Linked DNA regions of Homo sapiens: region 2 is linked to region 1. Evidence: fine-mapped expression QTL. Tissue or cell type: whole blood. Region 1 holds a variant in brackets; the other region holds the start of a gene. All regions are shown on one strand. Distances are between the middles of the regions.

Evidence for each region. PIP is the estimated chance that this variant, and not a neighbour inherited with it, causes the effect.
Region 2: it holds the start of CCNE1, and the variant in region 1 is fine-mapped to the expression of CCNE1 in whole blood (TOPMed, PIP above 0.99).

What each region holds. Positions count from the first base shown.
Region 1 is chr19:29,737,544-29,745,718 of GRCh38, reverse strand. No RefSeq gene overlaps it. Among named protein-coding and RNA genes, the nearest start is that of C19orf12, 26 kb to the right of the region's middle. RefSeq lists enhancers at 1-313, 314-815. The variant A/G (reference allele first, on the strand shown) is at 3,332.
Region 2 is chr19:29,807,259-29,815,433 of GRCh38, reverse strand. It overlaps CCNE1 (cyclin E1), which reads right to left and starts at 3,443. Exons shown (of 12, transcript NM_001238.4): 1 at 3,282-3,443; 2 at 2,856-2,902; 3 at 2,658-2,745; 4 at 2,397-2,465. The coding sequence starts at 2,878. RefSeq lists silencers at 37-196, 3,360-3,989.

The DNA.
Region 1 (8,175 bases):
TTTGGGTAAGAAACAACAAACTTGACCAACTTGACAACGCTGTTTATTTGTTTGCTTTAAAACAAAATCTACTTGTTTGAGGAACAGTGATGAAAATGAGCGAGTGTCTGTTCTCAGGACAGTCTGTCTTTCCTGTGGAACTCAGGTGAGCCAGTCCCTCTGCCTGTGGTTCTCTGGGGGCAGTGTGTTCAGGGAGTCCCAGGCAGGGGCTGGCTTGCTCTGGGGTGTCCAGCAGAGGGCCAGAGAGCTTGCAAGCCAGACCTAGGGGGCTCCCGTGGGGCTCCCACTGCCCATGAAGCCCTTCCGTCCCCAGTGCCTTTGCTCTTGTTGTCCCTCCTGCCCCACCCTCTAGACCCCAGATCTGTGCATGGCAGTTTTTTCTTGTCACTTGGCTTTAATTGCAAATGCGCCCTCTTCGGGGAGGCATTTCCTGACAACCTGATCCAAAGTGCCCTGCCCTGCGGGCCTCCCACTCTCAGCCCACCTCGCTTTATTTTCTCCAGTACACGAATCGCAATCTCCATCATCGATGGCCATGCACCGAATAATGTTTGGGTCAAAGGCAGTGTGCAGTGGTGACAGTGGTCCCATCAATGATAATACTATATTTTTACTGTACCTTTTCTAAGTTGAGATTTGTTTAGGTACACAGATACTTAACCACTGGGTTCCAGCTGCCTGCGGCATTCAGCGCAGTAACGTGCTGTCTGGGTCTGTGGTCTAGGAGCCACAGGCCACACCATGCAGTCTAGATGTGCAGTAGGCAACCCCATCCAGGTTTGTGTAGTGCACTCTGTGACGTCCACACAATGACAACATCACCTCTCCATGCATTTCACAGGACATGTCCCTGTCACTCAGCGACGCTTTAGATCTTGTTGGCTGCCTTCCCCAAGCAGAACATGGGCTCCCTGAGAGGAGGGAGACCATTCTCTGTGGTGACCATTCAGAGCAGTGGTGAGAACAGGGCCTGGCCCACCTGGCAGGTACCCGGTAGGCATCTGTAGAGTGAATGAGAGTAAAGGAGAAAGACTGGCCCTTCCTGTGCACATAGCTGAGATGGGAACTCTGGATGTTGACACAGGTCAGTCATCCTTTGGTTTTTTTTGTTTGTTTGTTTGTTTGAGACAGATCTTGCTCTGTCACCCAAGCTGGAGTGCAGTGGCACCATCTAGGCTCTTAGATTCAAGTGATTCTCGTGCCTCAGGCTCCCCAGTAGCTGGAACTACAGGCATGTGCCACCATGCCTGGAGAATTGTTTGTATTTTTAGTAGAGACAGTGTCTCACCCTATTGCCCAGGCTGGTCTTGAACTCCTCATCTCAAATGATTGGATCTCAAGTGATCCACCCACCTTAGCCTCCCAAAGTACTAGGATTACAGGCATGAGCTGCCGTGCCTGGCCACGATTGCCCTCTTGTCCTTACTCCCAAAAGAAGCTTTTCCTAAGTTATTCTGATAATTCCTGCTTGAGCAAATCTAGATAATTGAGGTATAAGCATTGGGTGGGGCATTTTTTTTAAAATTGTTGTTTTCATTGAAATTGCCTTAATTCTCCCATTTCCTCTGCCACTGTGGACAGGACTAAGCTATTTGGGCCTCCTCTCTCTCTGCTCTGAATCGCTGTCTATCATGGTCACCAGCACCTCTCTTTTTTAAAAAAAATTTTTTTTAAGAGTCAGGGTCTTGTTCTGTTGCCCAGGCTGGAGTGCAGTGGTGCAATCATAGCTCACTGCAGTCTCAATATCCTGGGCTTGAGTGATCTTCCTACCCCAGCCTTTGGAGTAGCTGAGACAACAGGTGTGCACCATCACACCCAGCTACTTTTTTTTATTTTTTGTAGAGACAGAGTCTTGCTATGTTGCCCAGACTTGTCTCAAACTCCTGGGCTTAAGCAATCTGCCTGCCTCAACCTCCCAAAGTGCAGAGATTACAGGTATGAGCTACTGTGCACAGCCAGCACCTTTTCTTGGACAATGACATTTCAGCCAGCCCCTGGTTTCATGGCCAGATCACTGAATGGGCCAAGGCAGTTGGTCCTTTCCTTCTCTTTTCCCTCAAGGGAGGCTTTTCTCCTGCCCAGCATCTCTTTTTTCTTTTTTCTTTTCTTTTTTTTTTCTTTCTTCGACGGAGTCTCACTCTGTTGCCCCAGTGGGAGTACAGTGGCACTATCTCAGCTCACTGCAACCTCCACTTCCCGGGTTCAAGTGATTCTCGTGCCTCAGCCTCCCAAGTAGCTGTGATTACAGGCGCCTGCCATCAGACCCGACTAATTTTTGTATTTTTAGTAGAGATGGGGTTTCACCATGTTGACCAGGCTGGTCTCGAACTCCTGACCTCAGGTGATCCACCCATCTTGGCCTCCCAAAATGCTGGGATTACAGGTGTGAGCCACTGCATCCAGCCCCAGCATCTCTTTTCTGTCATTCTTGTAAGAGCATCCCAGCTAGTCTTGGGGAATCCGTCTTTCTCCACTTTCAGACCTTGCCTCTTGGGTGGGGCCAGCAATGCCCCCTCTAAACCCTGGCCACAGCAAAGGTTTAGAGGGGGCATGAATTGGGCTAGGGAGAGAAAGGGGCCCCTGGATTTCAGCTGGAGCCACAGGAAAGGGCTCTTGCTTCAGGTGTCCTGGGTGTTAGGGCTGGGGGCTGTGCAGCTGCGATGGCACCAACACAGGAGATGTGAGGCTCTGAAGAAGCCGTGGTCTCTGCAGTTACGCCAAGTTTCCTTCATGCCAACACTGGCTTGAGTTGCACATTCTGGCACAAGCTCCTGGGAGGCCCTTGATAGATCCTTGTCTCCTCTGGGCTCCACATTCTGTGCAAACATCTTTATCTGTGGACACAGCCTCGAGCTGGCCATTGACCCTTCCTCAGGAAAGACAGACCCCCATCCACAAGTGTGTGGAGCCTCTCAGTGTCTGGGAACTGCAATGGCCTTGGTCATCCATGTTAGCCAATGACCTTAACCACATACCCACGGGGCCTGGCCACACCCCGTAGCTGACTGTGAAGATGACCCTAAGAACCATATAGGCAGCCAAGAAAAAAAGTCCAGAGACTCTGTGATGAGATGGGGTGAGGGGGGTACCTTAGTCTGTTCAGGCTATTTTGACAAAGTACCGTAGACTGAGTGGCTTATCAGAAACAGAAATTTAGTGGTGGCTCACACCTGTAATCTCAGTACTTTGGGAGGACGAGACAGGTGGATCACTTGAGGTCAGGAGTTCAAGATCATCCTGGCCAACATGGTGAAACCCCATCTCTCAGGTTACAGATTGCAGACTTCATATTGTATCTTCACATGGCAGAAAAGGGGCAAAGAGCTCTCTG[A/G]TATCCTTTTTACTTATTTATTTATATATATATTTTTAAAGATGAGGTCTTGCTATGTTGCTCAGGCTGGTCTTGAACTCCTGGCCTCAAGTGATCCTCCCGCCTCAGCCTCCCAAAGTGCTGGGATTACAGGCATGAGCCACCACAACCAGCCTGGGGTCCTTTATATAAGGGCACTCACCCCATTACTGTGGGCTCTGCTCTCATGACCTAATCACCTTCAAAGGCCCCACCTCCTAATACCCTCACGTAGGGAATTAGGATTTCAACATATGAATTTTGGGAGGACACAGACATTCAGAGCATAGCAGGAGGTTCTGGTGAGAGGCCTGAAATACTTCCCCGTCATCCGGCTCCATGGAGCCCTCTGGCCCTGTGAGCCTGTCCCTACAGCACCTCCTGTATTTGTTTAGCCAAGTTATCAGAGTGGCCCCAGGGGACGCAAATCAGCCTGAGATGCCAACAATTAGGCTCATAAGCTCCCTGTGTCAATTTGCTCGGATAGTAGTGAGTACATCTTTGTCTGGGTAGAAGCACATCTTCACACTCTGGAGCTATGGAGGGTAAGCATTTTAAGCTGCAAATATTGTTATTCATAATAGGTTAGCAAATATTTTCAGATTAACTAAGTGTCACACTCTGGAATTATGACTGTGAATCTGACAGCTTCCGATGGTGGTGGCTCCTGCCTCGTTCTCAGGCTGGGAGGCCCCAGACCAGGGACTGTCCTTAGGGGATGGGTAGTCAGACCCTCTCCCCCATCGCAGGGATCCCCTCATCCATTTCCACCCTGAATAGTGTCCAATCCTTCTCCTCTTGGGTACCTGTAAGGATGTGCTACTCACTACTTTCAAAGGCAGAATGCATCCCCCGGCGGGGCGGCTCTGGTTGCCAGAGGATATTTTGGGCCAGCCTTGGGTGCACTGGCCTTTATGCTGGCATCACTCGCTCATGGGGTCACTCGGCAAACATTCCTCTCATGGCTACAGATGCCAGAGCCTTCGCTCAGAGCCAGGGAGTCAGAGGAGGAGGCAGCGCGACCCCTGTACGTGAGGAGCTCACCTCCTGGGAAACAGACAAGAGCACACTCAGCTCTTACACAAGACACAGAGGGGGACCCAAGAGGCTGGGGGACTCTGAGACAGGAGCTGGGGGAGTGGAGGAGAGCCTCAAAGGATGGACACAATACAAATCTACCGAGTTGGGGACTGGGTGGATGGAGCAATGGCAGGCAAGGGAGGGACCCTCACCATGGATGTGGATGGTTAGAGAGGCCATGCAGGCGCGGGGAAAGCCGGTGGGGGTAAGCGTGTCAAAAGTCCTACAAAGCCAGGTTGCCATTGAAAGGGGGTGCTCCGTGCTTCTGGAGACACTGTGCACCAGTCTCAGTGACTCTCCACCCTCCTGTCTTCCTCCCACCTCTTGGGCTTCTCCTTAACCAGACCTCTAAAGGCTGGAGTGCTCCAGAGCTGGAACTTCCACAACAAAACTCCTTGCCCAGGACATAGTGTCTCCACCTCCCCTGTAGCTCAAGCCCAGAAACCTGGCAGTCATTCCTGAGGTCCTTTTTCTTCCATCCCAGTCTCCAGACCATAACCAGTGAGTGGGTCTGTCACTACAGAATGTGTCTTCTACCCTGTCTGCTTCTTCCCTACTCCCCTGCCGCTGTGCTCTAAGCCTCCCCCATCTCTCAAGGGCCAGGCCCCCAGCCGGCCTCCTGTATTAGCTCAGGCCACCATAACAAAATACCATGAGCCAGGGCTTGAACAATGAACAGTTATGCTTCACCGTTCTGAAAGCTGGGACGTTTGAGATCAAGGAGTGTCTGAGTCCATTTTGTATTGCCATAAAGAAATACTGGAGGCTGAGTGATTTAAAAAGAAAAGAGGTTGATTTAGTTCACGGTTCTGCAGGCTGTACAAGAAGCGTGACACCAGCACCTGCTCCTGGTGAGGCCTCAGGAAACTTCCATTCGTGGCAGAAGGGGAAGGAGGAGCAGGCATGTCATGTGGCAAGAGAGGGAGCAAGAAGGAGAAAGAAGGGTTCCAGGATCTTTTTTGTTGTTGTTTTATTGGCCAGAATTTTTTATTTCATTTTTTATTTTTATTTTTATTTTTTGAGATGAAGCCTCACTCTTTCGCCCAGGCTGGAGTGCAGTGATGTGATTTTGGCTCACTGCAGCCTCCACCTCCCGGGTTCAAACAATTCTCCTGCCTCAGCCTCCTGAGTAGCTGAGACTATAGGCACGCGCCACCACACCCGGCTAATTTTTGTATTTTTAGTAGAGACGGGTTTTCACCATGTTTGCCAGGCTGGTCTCAAACTCCTGACCTCAAGTGATCTGCCCGCCTCAGCCTCCCAAACTGCTGGGATTACAGGTGTGAGCCACTGCACCCGGCCCTGGGTCCTGCTTTTAAAAGTCAATCTGGGCCAGGTGCCGTGGCTCACATCTGTAATCCCAGCACTTTGGGAGGCTGAGGTGGGTGGATCATGACGTCAAGAGATCGAGTCCATCCTGGCCAACATGGTGAAACTCTGTCTCTACTGAAAATACAAAAATTAGCCAGGCGTGGTGGCACGCAACTGTAGTCCCAGCTACTCGGGAGGCTGAGGCAGGACAATTGCTTGAACCAGGGAGTCAGAAGTTGCAGCGAGCTGAGATTGCACCACTGCACTCTAGCTTGGCAACAGAGCAAGCCTTTGTGTCAAAAAAAAAAAAAAAAGTCACTCTGATCAGTTTTCTTGTGGACCCATCCTTCCTGCCCCTTATCCCACCCCATTCAGTGGCCTCCCATAGCATCCAGGACAAAGTCCCCAGTCCTAGGGGGCTTAGAAAGCCTTGTAGGCCCAGGCCCCCAACCCAGTCCCTGACTCTCAAACCACTGCAGCCAACCCCTTCGTACCAGTTCTTCAGGGGCCACTTCGCATGGACAATTCCTCCACCTTGTTCCACGGCATCAAAGGCTCCTTCCCTGTGTCCAGCTCCCATAGGTCCATAGGAGACAGGCATCTGATCAGATAACCATTCTGGGCTAATGGGCTGCTTGGTGCCAGGGGATGACTGTACCACTCCATCCAGGTCACACCCTTGCGTTTGTTTAAAATTTAATTTAGTTTAGATTCAAGGGGTACATGCGCATGTTTGTTACCTGAGTATATTGTGTGCTGGTGGGGAATGGGATTTTAGTGTACCCATCATCCCACCCCTGCCTTTTTACTGGGATACGGGGAACTACTGAGTCTTAACATACAAGGACTAGCACACAGGGCGGAGGGGAAGGCAGCACCTTAGACCCCACAGCATTTCAGGTCAAAGGGTATTACTCTAGCAATTCCTTTCTGTCCAGGGTTGATCTTGATTATTTTCAGACAGGGTCTCACTCTGTCTCCCAGGCTAAAGTGCAGTAGTGCAGTCAGGGCTCACTGCAGCCTCGACCTCCCAGGCTCAAGTGATCCTCAGCCTCGCAATAGCTGGGACTATAGGCACATGCTACCACGCCTGGCTAATATATATTTTTTAATTCTTTGGAAGTTTTTAAAATTCTATGTAGAGATGGAGTCTCACTATGTTGCTCAAGCTGGTCTCTAACTCCTGGACTCAAGCAATCCTCCAACCTCAGCCTCCCAAAGTTCTGGGATTACAGGTGTGAGCCACCACGTCTGGATGAATCTTGGTTATTTTAATGCAAAATAACAAAAAGAGAAGTTCTTTGCCCCTAAATGAAAGTATATGTTAGGGAAGATGACCTCGTGACAGGTGCTGGCCCTTGTGTCAATAGACTTGAGTCCCTGGTGAGGCTCTAAGGGGCGGGGCTGGGAGCTAGGACCCCCTGGCCCCAGAGCCTTTCAGCTACCATGTGGCTGGGCCCATACCACACCACCCTTCCCACACTCAGCTGGACATCCTGAATCTGGGCCTGAAAGATTCTACATGCAGACAGCACCTGTAGGGAGGGCAGGGGTGGGAAAAGGCAGGCAGGTGAAGGGTCAAGTTGGCCCTAGTTAAAGGCTTAGACCAGCGACTTCACCAGCTGTGTGACTCTGTGGAAAGTCCTCACCCTCTCTGAGCTTCTGTTTTTTGCCCGTGTACATCGGGGGTTGGAAAATGGGGGAGGGAGGGTGTTTGTCTCCATTCTTAAGGGCTATGACGAGCAACCTCAAAGTTTGTCAAAATGAACCAAGGAAGTCGGCCCTTGGGAATGCACCTGGAACAAGTGCACAGTGGGTAGCAGGAGCCAGGTGGCTTCTGGGTGAGAGGCCTTCCTGGTCACCTGCTTGGCTGCATAGCATAGGAAAAGCAAGAGGTGACCAGACAGGAGGTGCAGAGGAGGGCAACCCCAGAGCCAGGCGTGGGCTCAGTACAGCCTGAAGTTGCTTCAATCATGGTATCCAGGACTATTTCCAGTTCCAAGGGGGGGCCTCCAGGAAGCTGCTAAGCATGCGGTTAATCCTCAGGTCTCCTTGCCCGTCGGGCGAGAAGGAAGTTTTGGCTGCTCAGGAAGGTCTGTATCCAGGAGAAAGGGCACTGACCACACAGGCAAGAGGGTCCCATTCTGGGAGATGGTACCTTTCTCACTGCCCGTGGGTAGCTTGGGCCTGGGCAGCAAACCTGGGGCTTGTGGCTAGCGGCTGAGCTTGGGACCGCTCAGGCTGGTGGGAGGGCTGAGGTCTCCCCATGCTGTCGGGGGAGCCTAAGGGAGATGCTTGCCCTGGCCTCCCAAATTCCAGTAGAGAGAGCCACATGCAGAGACTGAGGGTGCCGTCGGGAAGAGGTGCCCCATACCTTATTCCAGCCTGAGTGCCTGCTGTGCTCAGGACCTGCACACCCTTACAGAAGGGTGGCT
Region 2 (8,175 bases), 70 kb before region 1:
CCACCCAATGTACAAAGAATTGGGCATGCAAATTATCCATGACAGCTCCTGCCAACAGCTGTGCGAGCAAGGCTGCTTCCTTTCAGTTCTAGTACCATGTGCGGGTGGCATTTCCTTAACTCAAAAAGGGTCACATTACAACCGCTGTAAGTTGTTCTTCATTCAGGAAGAATGAATTCTAGTCTTGAAGGCATAATGCTGGGTGCCACCCTCTACAGCCAGATGGCTGGCACATCTGAGAGCAGGCCTTTGGACATAGATGAGTCCAGCAGCAGTTCCCAAACTAGGTGAACCATCAGCAGACAAATGGTTTCCAAAGTTGGCCTTTTTAGGGACCAGTGGATGAGGTAGAATAATTAAGTCTATGTCCTTGAGTGTACACCAAGTTTCAAAGCAAGATCTGTCTGACTTTATTTAGGAAAGAATGAGATAACAATAAGAGACCCACGGGATTCCTAACCACTCCAACTCCTCATACCACTTTTTTCCTTACATAGGATTATTTTCTGAAAAGTAACAGTCCAGGATTCCACTTCAATAGAAAGATTGAGTCTTGTGCAAAAAAATTAAACAACAAAATGGACGTGTTAAGTAGATCTTAGATAAAAGGGTATTCTTTTCATTAAGAACAGCCTAAGATGAAAATTAAAAAGCTTCCATGTGGTCTCGATGAAGCAGTTACACAAGAGTTTGGCACAATGGCTCCAAGTAGCTCAAGACTGTCGTACTGGGGGGAATTATGATAACTCCAGAGAAAAATTCTGTATGTGAGCAGGGAAAAAGGTTCTGTTGTACCCCCAAGTTCTAGTTTCATGAAGCTCCACAAAGAAATAACAAAGATACTGCTCCATACATAGACAGCTAATGTTTAAGCTATCTACTCTACAAAACGTATAGAAATCTGTCGCCATTAATCTCTGGATAACCACGAAAATGCCTTCTAGTGGGAAATGGTATGGCTATTCCGGCAGCACAGCTATCCACACTGTGGCCAGGGGACAGAGCCACAATCCGTCCCAGGAGGCACCCTCGTCACTGCTCAGGCTATCCTTGAGAACAGACATGCTTCTAAAACTCCAAGAATGCAACAGGGACGGCCCTGCTTCATCTTCAGCTGGAAGTTTCTTTTCTATTCAAAACACAGCTGGGAAAATAAACAGTCCTGAATTTCACAAAGTCAGAATTCATTTTATAATACCTAAAAAATCAACTTGCTTGATTTGAATGTACTTTAAGGGAAGAAAAAAAAAACTGGGGATATGCCGTCTCATTTCCGTCTCTGAAATGATTTCTTTGAATGAAAAAGGAAATCAGCAACCCTTTCTTCAATAGTCAGTGGACCCTCCTCAGAAATGCTTATTTCGGGGGACCTTACATGCAGTGACAACTGCTATTTAGAACACGGCGCACTGCGTTGAAACCCTTCACGCTTCCAGATGAACTACCCTGGCTGCTGCTCTGCAAAGTGAGGGGCTTCTCTGCTAACCTAGCTGGGATCCCTGCACTCAGGTCGAACACTGTTTCTGTTCAGCGTTTATCTGTGATAGAGTCAGAAGGCCTGACCAGCTAGTTTAGAGATAGGCTGCTTCCCCCACTGGAGCCATAACTACAGTCTCCAGCCATTTCTGAAAGTAAAGAGATAGTACAAGCTTTTTCTGCAAGAAACTTCTGATATTATAATGATTATCACACTGCATGCAGGAAATTTGGCAGGAACTCCTTAAGGAGAGAAAAGAAAAGCAGTCAAAAAAAAATGTATTGAGACACCACCTATCATTACACTGAATGTTCCACTGATACTCTTGCTGAGGTCAGGCTGAGCTGGGGATCAATGCAGGTAATTGCTGGAGGGGCTATAAGAACTTCCAGGGCCAGAAAGAGGAGAAGAATTTGAAATCTGACCTACAGAAGACGGAGGAGGTCCTTAAACACCATGACAAGAAAAATAGGTGTAGATAGGGGGAAAGTTGTTGCTTATAAACACCCAGGAACCCTCCCCCAGTTCACCAGCTTTTACAGACAAGGCCGAGAGCCCAACTTTGCCCCTGGATGGCACAGGACTCTGGGTTACTTTCTTCCTCTAACTGAGTCTCAGTTTCCTCCTGGGCAGAAGGGGAGGACTGAATACTGTGATGTCCATTCTGGTTCTTCCAGGCTAGGCACATATCTGTAATCTCAGACGGTGCCAGTCAGGAACACCAAGCTTCCTGGAATCCCAGGACTGGCAGAGGCCAGTGCCCACTGACAGGTACAGTGCTGGGCCATATGGGCTGTGGCTGCATTAGAGAAGTTCACTCTCACCAGAGTGTCTCCAGCAAGAGACAAGACAGCATGAAACCCCATGTGACCCAGGGGGAGAAGGACCTCCACAGAGGCCCAACCCCGGGCGGACCTACCTGGCTCCCACACTGGTCCCTCGCCGTCCTGTCGATTTTGGCCATTTCTTCATCTGGATCCTGCAAAAACTAACATGAAGCCACCCCCATGACCCCAAGGAAACACACCAAACAAGACAAAAACAGAGAGAAGAAGAGAAAGCTGATCAGGTTATGAGCTCCGTTCCTGCCCAAGGGACCCCCGCCCCCGTAGGCAGAGCCAAGTCGGGTACCCAGGTGAGATGGGGGGGATGCTCCCCAACCTGTCTCTTTTGTACTCACAACGGTCACGTTTGCCTTCCTCTTCCTGGAGCGAGCCGAGAACTCCGCGCCGCCGTCCTCCTTCATGGTGTCCCGCTCCTTCGCATCCCTGTGGACCCGGGTGGCACCGGGCCGGGTGAGCACCCGCGGCCGCCCCTCCCCCACGCCACCCGTCCCGTCCCGTCCCGTCCCGTCCGGCCCCGCGGCGCGGGCACTCACCGCTCCCTGCGCTCCCTCGGCATGATGGGGCTGCTCCGGCCTGAGGCCTGCGGGGCGGCGCGGGGTGAGGCGGCGGCGGGGTCAGGCCGCGGGCCCAGTACCCCTTCCCCCTTTGCGCGCGGGCGGCCGGGCGAGCCAGGAAGATGGCCGATGGCGGGGTGGCCTGTCACCCGCGACCCGGGCACCCGCCGACCCCCGACCCGGGGTCCCGCCGCCCCCGCCGCCCTCACCGGCCCGTCGCCTCCCGGGGCCCGGGCTGCCTCAGTGTCCCCTCCACCCCACCCCGCCGCGCTCTCAGCACCCTCCCGGGCGCCCCGCGACGCCGCCCGGGGACCCGCGACCCGGCCGCACCCCGCCCCCACCCAGCTCCCCGGCGCGGTCTGGGCCCCAGGAGTCCCTGTCCGCAGCCCGCGGCAGTAGACTCACCAGGGTCTTGTCCGCGGCGGACGGCGCGCTCCAGTCCCGGCAGGCGGCGGCGGCGACGGCAGTGGCGGCGGCGGCGCCGGGAGTCGGCGGGCCGAGCGCGCGGCGGTGGCGGGATCCGCGCCTGCCCCCTACACCGCGCTGGCGGCCGCGCCGGCTGCTCCTGCGCCCGGCTCAGAGCGGGACATTTAAAATCCCTGCGCGCGGAACCGGCCCCGGCCCGCCCTCGCACCGCCCCGCCGCGGCTCCCAGCCCCTCAGCGGCCGCGCGGGACCCAGAGCCCGTCCCGCCCCGTCCCTCGCCCCGCCCCCGGACCCGCCCCTCCACGGCGCCGGCCCGCGAGGCGCAGGGACGGGGAATCAGGGGCGGGGCCGGCGGACAGGGCGGGGCCAAGTGACAGGGCCTGCGCGCCGAGGGCCGGGCGCGGGGCGCGGGGCGCGGGACGCGGGGCGGGGCGGCGGGCGGGACGCGGGAGAAGTCTGGCGCGCGGCGGCGAGGGGCGGGCCGCGGGCGCCGGGGGCGGGGCCGAGCGGCGCTGGAGCGGCAAAAAGCCGCGTGGCTGGCGCGGGTGGAATGTAAACACGGCGGGCGGCGCGGGTTCGGGCCCCGGCAGGGCTGAGCCAAGGGGATGTGTGGGGGGCCTACCCGAGGAGCACCGCCCGCCGTTCCTCCGCGCGCGCTGTCCCGCCAGGCACGCCCTCCCCGCCCCCGAGACGCCGAGTTCCGGGCCCTGAGTCCTGGGCGGGGACATCCCCAAGGTCACCGCGCCTGTGCCTTGGCCTAGAACCAAGGCTTCAGGCCGCGGGGTCTGGGGCTCCCTGGGGGCCGGCTGCTATTCCTGGCCGCCTGTCCATTCATCCGTCAGTGCATTGGGTCGTTCATTCATTCATTCAAGGAATCTGTGAGTTCCTTCCATGCGCCCCTTCCATATGCGCCCCTCCCCCGCAAGCCCTTCCTGGCTCTCTGAAGACCTTTCTGACTCTGGGATTCCCTTGCACCCCATCTCTCACTTAAAGCCTTCCAGTTGAGGCCGGGCGCGGTGGCTCACGCCTTTAATCCCAGCATTGTGGGAGGCCGAGACGGCTGATCCCTTGGGGTGTTCGAGACCAGCCTGGGTAACAGTGAGACCCCCATTTCTACAGAAAAAGAAACAAAAAGCCTTCCAGTTGTTTCGCATAAGGGTCAAATCCACACTCCGTGTCCTAGGCTACAGGCTCCACAGGACCTGACCCTGATCCCCCACCCTCAGACCTCAGGCCTCCTCTCCACAGCTCCTCTGTCCTTTCTCCCTCAAGACTTGTATTTTTTATTGTGGCGGGGGGTGGGGGGTGGCAGGTAGGGATAGGGTCTTGCTATGTTGCTCAGGCTGGTCTCAAACCCATGAGCTCAAGCGATCCTCCCGCCTTGGCCTCCCAAAGTGCTGGGAGCCCAGCCCCTACACAGTCTTGGTGCCTCTCTGTTTCTTGTCTCTCTCCCCACCTTGCCCATCTTGCTCACTGCTGTATCTGTCAGTTCTTGGCATAGTGCCTGGACCAAGGGAGACACTTAAATTGTTTCTGAATGAACATTTGAAAGACAGGCACTGGCCAAGCCCTTGCAGGGCTTACCGGCTAATGAGAGAGACAGGTAAGGAACAGTCATCACCTCAGAGTACCCTCTGTACTCAGCTTCAGGAAGATGTGCGTAAAAGAAGGCTCTGGAATGCTCCCAGGGCCCTTCTTAAGCTAAAGTCTCAGTCCTGTCCCTCACCCTCCCCTAGTGACCGTTTTCTTGAAGTTAGAGCCAGGGTCTTATCAAAGAGGCTCACAAATTCATGATTCCCCCAGGTGCTCTGAGGCCAAGGCTGCTGGGCTACTTGCTCAGCAGGGACCCAGGCACCTGAACCCCCCATCCTGTGCCCGTTAGGAATCACCAGTAACAGGTATCATAAACAGTGTTTCCAAAATGGCAGCACTGGGCTAAGTCCTTCAAAGTATCATCTCAATTAAACTTCACAATAATCCTATTCATGTTGATGCCACAATTATCCTGTTTCACAGATGGCAACTATCTACTCCCAAGGATCATTGTGAAGATTGAGATAATGTAGCTGACTCCTGTACAGTACCTGGCACACAGTAAATGCTCACTAAATGAGTTATTATAATGATGGTAGACAAGACAGTTTTCCTTAGTCATTACAGCAATGTATACACCCACCAGCAAAGATAGAGCCCAAATCCTCCACATCCTAGCTGACATGTTCATCAAGAATAGAATGGATACATAAATGTTGTTATATTAATTCAATGGAATACCACACAGCAATAAAAAGGACAAACCAAGGAATCATGCAGCAACATGAGAATTTCAGAGACAACATGTTGAGCCCAAGAAGCCAGACACACTTATTTGAAGTTTCCATTTATTTGAAGTTTAAGAAAAGACAGCAGTCACCGTAACAGTATTTACCCCTAGGGTGAGGAGTAATGACCGGGAGGAGACCAGGGGAAACTTCTAGGGGCTAGACATGTATGCTTTGATCTGAGTGGTGGTTTCATGACTGTATACATACATAAAAGCTCATTGATTGATACATACATAAAAGTTCACACCTAGGATTTGTGCACTTTACTGAATGTATCTTTTACTCAATAAAAATTAAATAATAATAATAATTATTATTTATTTTTTAGACAGAGTGTCGTCCAGACTAGAGTGCAATGACGCGATCTCAGCTCACTGTAACCTCTGCCTCCTGGGTTCAAGTGATTCTCCTACCTCAGTCTCCCGAGCGGCTGGGATTATAGGCATGCGCCACCTCGCCCAGCTAATTTTTGTATTTTTAGTAGAGACGGGGTTTCACCATGTTGGCCAGGATGGTCTCCATCTCTTGACCTCGTGATCCGCCCGCCTTGGCCTCCCAAAGTGCTGGGATTTCAGGAGTGAGCCACTGTGCCCGGCCTTATTATTATTGTTGTTATTATTATTATTATTTGAGACGGAGTTTAGCTCTTGTTGCCCAGGCTGGAGTGTGATGACGCTATCTCAGCTCACTGCAACCTCCGCCTCCCAGGTTCAATCGATTCTGCTGCCTGAGCCTCCCAAGTAGCTGAGATTATAGGCGCCTGCCACCACGCCCGGCTAATTTTTGTATTTTTAATAGAGACAGTGTTTCACTATGTTGGCCAGGCTGATCTCAAACTCCTGGCCTCAAGTGATTCTCCCTCCTTGGCCTCCCAAAGTGCTGGGATTACAGGTGTGAACCTCTGCGCCCAGCCAATAATTATTATTATTATTTTTTAATTCAAGACATAGCAAAGCAAGACACAATCCCTGCCCTCTTGGGAGCTTCCGGTGTGGAAGGGAGGCTGTCATGCATTTGCAGTGTAGCATGATAGGGCTGGGAAGGGAAGAGTCTTGGGGCTATGACTTCATGTGGAGAAGGATGTATCCAACCCATCCTTGGATGGCAAGAAGTTTGCATGAAGAAAATGGCATGTAAGCCAGAAGGATGAACACATTTAATAGGAACAATAGAAAAGTTGTGTCCAAGATGGCAGACACAGCCTATACAGCAGCTTGGAGTCTTCAGAAACCACTGATGTCTTTTGTTTTCATTTTTATTTTTTTTGAGACGGAATTTTGCTCTTTTTGCTCAGGCTGGAGTGCAATGGCGCGATCTCAGCTCACTGCAACTTCCGCCTCCTGGGTTCAAGCGATTCTCCTGCCTCAGCCTACCAAGTAGCTGGGATTACAGGCATGTGCCATCATGCCTGGCTAATTTTGTATTTTTAGTAAAGATGGAGTTTCACCATGTTGGCCAGGCTGGTCTCAAACTCCCGACCTCAGGTGATCCGCCCACCTGGGCCTCCCAAAGTACTGGGATTATAGGCATGAGCCACCGCACCCGGCCCAATGTCCGCCTTTCTAGGGCAGCTCACCTTTGGGTGTTTGGGTTCATTCCATTCTGTGCTTGCCTCAAGTCCAGAGCTCCCGAGCATTGGCCCAGCCTTGAGGGAGACTGTGGATTGCATCAGAGGTGGTGAACCAGCTGCTGTGTAGGGAGGGCAACACCTCCCCTTTGCTATGAGACTTTGGGAAGGTTCTCCAACCTCTCTGTGCTTTAATCTTCTCATCTGTAAAATGGGTATAATTCTAATTGTCCCAACGTCATGGGGTTGCGGTGAGGGGTAAATGTATTAATACCCCTCAAGTGTTTTCAACAGTATCTGGCACAAGGTAACTGCTCAATTTGTGTTGTTATTACTCATAAAGAGATTTGGGGGTTATTTGCTTAGCTTCCTATATGGTTCAGGCTCTGATGATGGAGGACGGGCACCAGGACATAAAGGTTAAGGAGAAGGAAGACCAAGGGATTGCAAGGGGGAAGTCCTTCCCAGATAGGATTCCTTAACATGGGATCCCTGGACAGCCTTTGGAGACCCAGGAGCCTGCCTACTGTTGGGCCCATGTGCATTTCCCCAGGCAGCTGGAGCCTAACTTCTACCAGGTCCTCAAAGGCGTCTTAGCGGACAATTAAAGAGCCCCGCTGCTAGCAAAGGTTGATCAGGGAAGGTGTGGGCTGTGGCTGGCAGTGGAGCTGGCTAAGGCCTTGCTGTGGGGCCAAGCTGGACATCTGTGGCCACCTGGATGAGCCAGTTATCTTGTGAGGCTACACATGGAAATACTAGAAGAGGAGGGGGCCACACTATACCAGTGTGAGCTGTGAAGTGGGAGCCGGGCAAGATGAACAGGACCAGGCTGTCAACCACAGAGTGTCTGCGGCCCAGCGCCAGGGAACGTGAGCATGGGAAAGCCCTGGAGGCTTGGCTCCTGTCCTCCCTGGGCGGGACAATCTGCCTGCACAGGCCCCCCAGCCAGCCAGGCAAGGGCCCAACCCATGCTCCCCAAGGCT